Homo sapiens: one gene and its partner. The protein of the gene in region 1 interacts with the protein of each later gene in a biochemical or structural test. Each region holds a gene or a part of one and is shown in the gene's direction. Other genes may lie near its edges.

Region 1 (2,795 bases):
CACTCTAGGCAGGCTCAGAACACTTGATATTCCTGACAGCTACACACCTGACATGCAGGTACATACCTGATCGGTGTCATCTCCTAACAAGGATTTTCAGTTCCTCGGGAGAGCAATAATCTTTGTAGGAAAGACATCCCTGCAATAGGTGATATGTGGTCCTTAGAAGTTTTATTCCTTTACTACTTGGAAGAAAAGTTCTTTGGTGATTCTTCTCTGCTTTTGAAGATGATCAAAAGCATCTTCATTGATTTTCTGAAACGAAAGCCTTGTCTGAAACCAATTAATACTTGGGAAACAGCTGGGCTTGGAGGAGTAGAATGCCAGAGATAAATCCATGGCTCCTGCTCTGGCTCTCTTCTGCAGAAATGAGGGCAACAGTGAGGCCACTTCCCTGGCAAATGTGCAGCTCAGGATAGGGAAGCATAAGACCCTCTGTTTAAAAGAGAGTCAAGTAGGTAACCAAAGCCAAGCTCTGTGCAAGGTGCTTTGGAGTTGTAAATTGAGGAGTGCATCCTTGCTGTCTTGAACCATTCTGTTTGCAATGGTGAGACCTTACATAACCTAGCCTTGCAGGGCCGCCACACAACCCTGGAGTCCTAGAGTTGGAGGAACCTTTGTATCCATCTGACTTCTCATTTTGCAGAATATGATGAGAAAGTAGAGGATCGCTCTGTTCACCACTCTTGCTATTCCATTAGTGGGGAGATGCCTGCTAGCATGTGTGAGGGGAACACTCTGATACACTGGGAAGTATCGGAAATTCCCAGAAACACAAACATAAAATAACTCTCCTAGACCCAGGTACTGGGGACTGTCTCAGTCCGTGTGGCATGATAAATAAAAGGTTAGGATCAAGTCTTTGTATTTTTCAAGATGTGGTAGCTGATTATTCCTGTTTTAAGTACTCTGAAATTGATCTGTGATCAATAATACTAATATGTTATCTTTTACCGTATTCTGCCTCTCACTATTGATTTTAATTAGTTAGGAGTATTTGAGCTGTTATTTCTTGAGCTTAATATTTTTTTAGAGTTAACTCTTTAAGGAGATAATCATGGCTGTAGACAAGGCCAGGGCTGGCTGACGTGCCTTAGAAGGTTTGAATGCAATAAAGCGGTGTTTGGCGTTCTCCTGCATTGTAGTGCGGGTACAAAATGCTATTTGTTCGTCATACTGTTGTCAGCAGATGAGCCGCCCACTACAGACGGCTACTGCCCAGGGACCTGCCCAGGCCCCACCCAAGGGCTCCCAAGGGTTGAGATTTCTGCAGACCTATAGCCAGCACACTTAGTCCTGCCCTATATAGAGTTCCTCTTCGGGAAGCTTTTGATAAGGAATTCTCAGACCGATAGGATGTCTGTCTGGGCTTTGCTGCGGGACAGTCTAACTGTGGGGGCTAGGGGAAAGCAGGAGAGTATCGATCAAAGAGTAAGCCACACACGGATAATCAGTTACTAGGGATGGAGGTGTGAGGGTTCATTATATTATTCATTTTACTGTTGTATATGTTTGAAAATGTCTATAATAAAAAGCTTTAAAAAAAAAAAAGAAACAAAAATAGTTCAGGCCAGCAATGGGCCCTCCATGTTCAGTGGATTTTATCCTTGTTTCAATTGGGGTAGGAGTTCCAGGAGGTGTGGATTGGAGGTTGTCTAAAGAATTGAACTGGCCTTTGTCCCTGCTTCCTGGGAGGGAGACTTTCAGTCCTTGACATTTCCAGGGTAATAGGAGTGTCTTTGTTATTTGTGAGGCCATGGGATCACACCTGAGCTTATGCTAAAAGGTGGGATGACTCAGAGCTGGGGCTGGTCACCAGACAGACTGACCATGTGATTAGAGGTTTGAGGCTTTGAGTCAGCCTGACCTATGGGGCGGGGGACTGGAGGCTGAGTTTAATCATCTGGCCAGTGCTTTAATCAGTACATCATGAAACCCTAATAAAAACTCTGGACACTAAAGCTCAGCATAGCTTCCTGGGTGGTGAAGCTGTGGCTATGCCGGCAGGGCAGTGTGCCCTAATTCCACGAAGAGGGGGCATGGGAGCACTGTGCTCAAGACCCTTCCAGACCTTTCCCTGTGTCTTCCTTGGCTTGTGGAGCTGATTTGTATCCTTTATAATAAAACTAATCATAAGTATAGTCCTGAGTTCTGTGATTTTTAGTGAATCATTGAACCTGAGGAAGATCATGGTACCCTCCTGGGATTGTAGGCAGTTGGTCACAAGCGCTGATGGCCTGGGATCCCCACATGGGGCTGGTGTCTGAGGTGAGGGCAGCCCTGTTGGGGACTATGTCCCTTCGCTGGTGGCATCTGATCTAACTCTGCTGGTCGTTGTTAGAATTGTGGTGCGGTACACCAGGTGGTGTCAGAACAGAGGCGGTGGGATCTGCACACCTTGAGTAAGCCCTTCTCGACCAGCCTGTTGGAACAAAACACACTACTCTTCATGGGAGCCTCCTGAGTTTCTTCTCACCTGTGTGAAGTCCCCTTTGTTTACTGTCCTGAGTTTTGTTCTCGCTCATCTCCAACCCCTCTTGTAGTTTTTTCTTCCTCACTGTCACTGTAACCATAAAAATACTCAGTATGTCAGTGATAGACTTGTCTTTCTATTCAGAGATGACTCTTCAACTGTCCGGGGACACTTTTTTCCAATAAAAAGTTCAGGATGGTAATTTGTGACTCCTTACTAAAGGCAAGCTGGGAGTGCGTGTGTGTGTGTGTGTGCACGCATGTGTGGTTTTTAAGTCATTTGTGGTCTGCTGGGGTGACCCATGGGCTAAGTTTGGACTTGC
Region 2 (3,754 bases), on another chromosome or scaffold:
AAATTGATATAAATACCAATATGTGAGTTAAGTAGCAATAAAGAATTTCATTACGTTAGTAAGTGCATCATTATACCTTTGGGTTTTTTCCCCCTTGTGATTAGAACAGAAATGTGTTTGATAGCAATAGAAATCCATATTTACTTGTTACCATGTGATACTGAATGTTAATATTCAGTGCCTGAAGGGTGTTTTCAAGTGTTTCTTAAGGTGTGATGAACTAATCAGGTTACTCACTTGGGTTGCTGGTTGAAAATGAAGATTCATGGTCCCACTGCAAACCTACCGAATTAGACTTTCAGGAGGCAAAACATCTGCAGTTTTGTTTGTTTTTGTTCTATTGAGACAGAGTCTTGCTCTGTTACCCAGGCTGGAGTGCAGTGGCGCGATCTTGGCTGACTGCAACCTCCGCTTCCTGGATTCAAGCAATCCCCCTGCCTCAGCCTCCTGAGTAGCTGGGACTACAGGCGCACGCCACCATGCCCGGCTAAGTTTTGTGTTTTTGTAGAGATGGGGTTTCGCCATATTGGCCAGGCTGGTCTGGAACTCCTAATCTCAGGTGATCTGCCCACCTTGGCCTCGCAAAGTGCTGGGATTACAGGTGTGTGCCCAGCCCCCTCTGCAGTTTTAACAGCATTTCTGGTTGATTTATGTGGAATTTTAAGAATTGTATTCTGAATCATAACTATTTTCTCCCCCAAATTCCTTATGTGCTTGAAAGAGTTTTTGTGTGTTTGTGTTAAAAGCCACATATCATAAAATTTGCCATCTTAACCTTTTTTTCATCTTAACCATTTTTAAGTGTAAAGTACAGTAGTGTTAACTGTATAGATGTGGTTCTATGACAGATATCTAGGACTTTTCACCTTACAACTTTTATTGAAGATAACTTTATATACCTTATAAACAGACTATACCCATTGAATGGCAACTTTCTTTCCCGCCCCCCCCGCCCCAGCCTATTTTGAGAGTTTTTCTGATGTTGTATGCTAAATGAATTGTAATAGTTGTGGGATTCCAGCCATAAAGTGGTTTGGTTCATTTTGATGTCCTGATTCATTTGCTTATCAGAATTTGCCAAACAAATGGATTCCAGTTAAGTTATTGAGTGGCATTTTAAAAATTACTTTTTAAAAACTCAGATAGATATACAATTCTTAGATTTTTGTTTTGGATAGAAGGAGCTAACTCTGTGTTCTGGTTTCTGATTAATAAATGATGGAGGAATTTTTTGTGAAATAAATGGTGGCAGAATGATATTTCTCAAATTTTCCTGTCAAAGTAATGACATGGAAGAACATTTAGAGGAGCCTGTTGCTGAACCAGAGCCTGATCCTGAACCAGAACCAGAACAAGAACCTGTATCTGAAATCCAAGAGGAAAAGCCTGAGCCAGTATTAGAAGAAACTGCCCCTGAGGATGCTCAGAAGAGTTCTTCTCCAGCACCTGCAGACATAGCTCAGACAGTACAGGAAGACTTGAGGGTATGAAACGTGTCTTCATTTTTATTCTATTCCTAGTTATTTTTTTTAAAAAAAGTTTCTGTTCTTTTGTATTGCTGTTTGGTTGACTTGTAGATACATTTTCATATTGGTGGTTCATTTCAGGGAAATTTCTTAGATATTGAGCCATATGTTTGATAAGAGAGAGGTAAGATGTGTATTAGTTTATTTCATCAAAAGAAACCACTCCCTTCCCCGAGGTAACTTGAATGCCTGTTAGACCAGAAATTTTAGGTGCCACTGTAGCACCCTATCAGTGATTCCTTTTCTATTTAATATTTAATCTTTTACACTATAAATTATTACATACTTGTTACTACAAGTGCATAACATCTTTTCAAGAAAAATAACATGGCAGAATATACTTTTTCTATGAAATTTTATTGAAGATAACTTTATAGTGGAAGTAGAAATGAACTGCTGAAGTAAAACTTCTTTTCTAGTTGGCATACCTGATTTCAGAAGTTTTCAGTTTGTCCTTCTGAGTCTCGTCAGGGTGATTGTTAACTGAACTATCGTTGAAACCTTTGCATTTGGTGCTCTGGAAAGGAATATAATTTTTAGTGCTGTGTTTATAGGCTCAGGGTTATGTCATTTGTTTGTTCAATAATTCAAATTCCTGCTGTGTGTTAGGCATTGTTCAAAGTGTAGGTTTTATATTGGCAAAACAGATAGGGGTTCTTGTTCTCTGGCAGCTAATAGGTGAGTAGGAAAGAGCAATGTTGAAATGACTTTAGCTTGCAAGTGGAAAAAATTAGCTGGGCATGGTGGTGCCTATGTGTGGTCCCACCTGCTTGGGAGGCTGAGGTAGGAGGATGGCTTAGCCTGGGAAGTCAAGGCTGCAGTGAGCTATGATTATGCCACTGCATTCCAGCCTGGGTAATAGAGTAAGACCTTGTCACAAGAACAAAACCATAAGAAGCAAGTGGAAAAGTAGGTTGGCTGGACCAGCTGACCACTTAGTTGGTTATTATAGTAACCCTAGTGAGAGAGAATGATGGCTTGAATTAGAGTTGTGGCAGTGGAAATGGAAAAGAAATAATTAGGTAGAATAACAGGTTCTGGCGATTTTTAAATGTGCGAGAAAGGTGTTTATGATGATTCTACAATTGATGTAATTGAGTCGATGTTTGTACAATGGATTGGATGGAATCACAGTAGGAAGAGCTGAGCTGATTTTGGAGGAGAGGGAATTTTGTTTGATTCACAGATTTGAATGAAAGTAGCTTTTGTTGGGCCAGGCGTTGTGGCTTACGCATTTAATCCCAGCACTTTGGGAGGCTGAGGCCAGGAGGATTGCTTGAGTTTAGGAGTTCAAGACCAGCCTGGTCAATATAGTGAGACTTCATCTCTACTAAAAAGAAAAAATAGCTGGACATGGTGGCACATGCCTGTAGTTTCAGCTGCTTGGGAAACAGGTGGGAGGATCACTTGAGCACAGGAGATGTAGGCTGCAATGAGCTGTGTGCATGCCACTGCATTCCAGCCTGGGCAACAGAGCAAGATTCTGTCTCAAAAAAAAAAGTGAGTAGTTTCTTGAACCTAAGCCTCTCGGATTTGCTTGGTACTTGATCATCAGTCCCAAGGAATTTCAGTACTAAATTTTGAATAGCTGAAAGAGAAGAATCTTAATATATATATATAAACTCCATCCTGCCTATGAGAATGTGTTACCGTTTGTTCTGTACAGGAAATCAAGAGTTAGTAGCTTTTATATTGTTTTGATACCTGGTATAATTATGTAATGTTGGTATTGCTCCCTTAGACATTTTCTTGGGCATCTGTGACCAGTAAGAATCTTCCACCCAGTGGAGCTGTTCCAGTTACTGGGATACCACCTCATGTTGTTAAAGTACCAGCTTCACAGGTAAGGTCCTAATAAAACTTGTACATTAGGCAAATTTACTTCTATTGTGGTAATTTGATTCAACAGAGGTTTAGAGAATGTGAAAACTGGTCAGGTGCAGTGTGGCTCATGCCTGTAATCCCAGCACTTTAGGAGGCTGAAGCCAGCTGATCACTGGAGCCTAGGAGTTTGAAACCAGTCTGGGCAACATAGTGAGACCCTGTCTCTACAAAAAATAAGAAATTAGCTGGGCCTTGTGGCATGCATCTGTAGTCCTAGCTACTTAGGAAGCTGAGGTGGGAGGATTGCTTGAGTCCCGGAGGTTGAGGCTGCAGTGAGTCATGATTGTGCCACTGCACTGCATCATGGGCGACATACTGAGACTCTGGCTCAAAAAAAAAAAACC

Evidence for each region.
Region 2: the proteins of TRIM25 (region 1) and G3BP1 form a complex in vitro, tested with the Homo sapiens proteins (one study listed by BioGRID).

Annotation. Positions count from the first base shown.
Region 1 is NC_000017.11:56,887,255-56,890,049, reverse strand, and holds the end of TRIM25 (E3 ubiquitin/ISG15 ligase TRIM25), read left to right. Parts: 3' UTR 1-2,141; downstream 2,142-2,795.
Region 2 is NC_000005.10:151,795,945-151,799,698, forward strand, and holds part of G3BP1 (ras GTPase-activating protein-binding protein 1), read left to right. Parts: intron 1-1,282; coding exon 1,283-1,484; intron 1,485-3,267; coding exon 3,268-3,369; intron 3,370-3,754. UniProt on the Homo sapiens protein: Protein involved in various processes, such as stress granule formation and innate immunity. Plays an essential role in stress granule formation.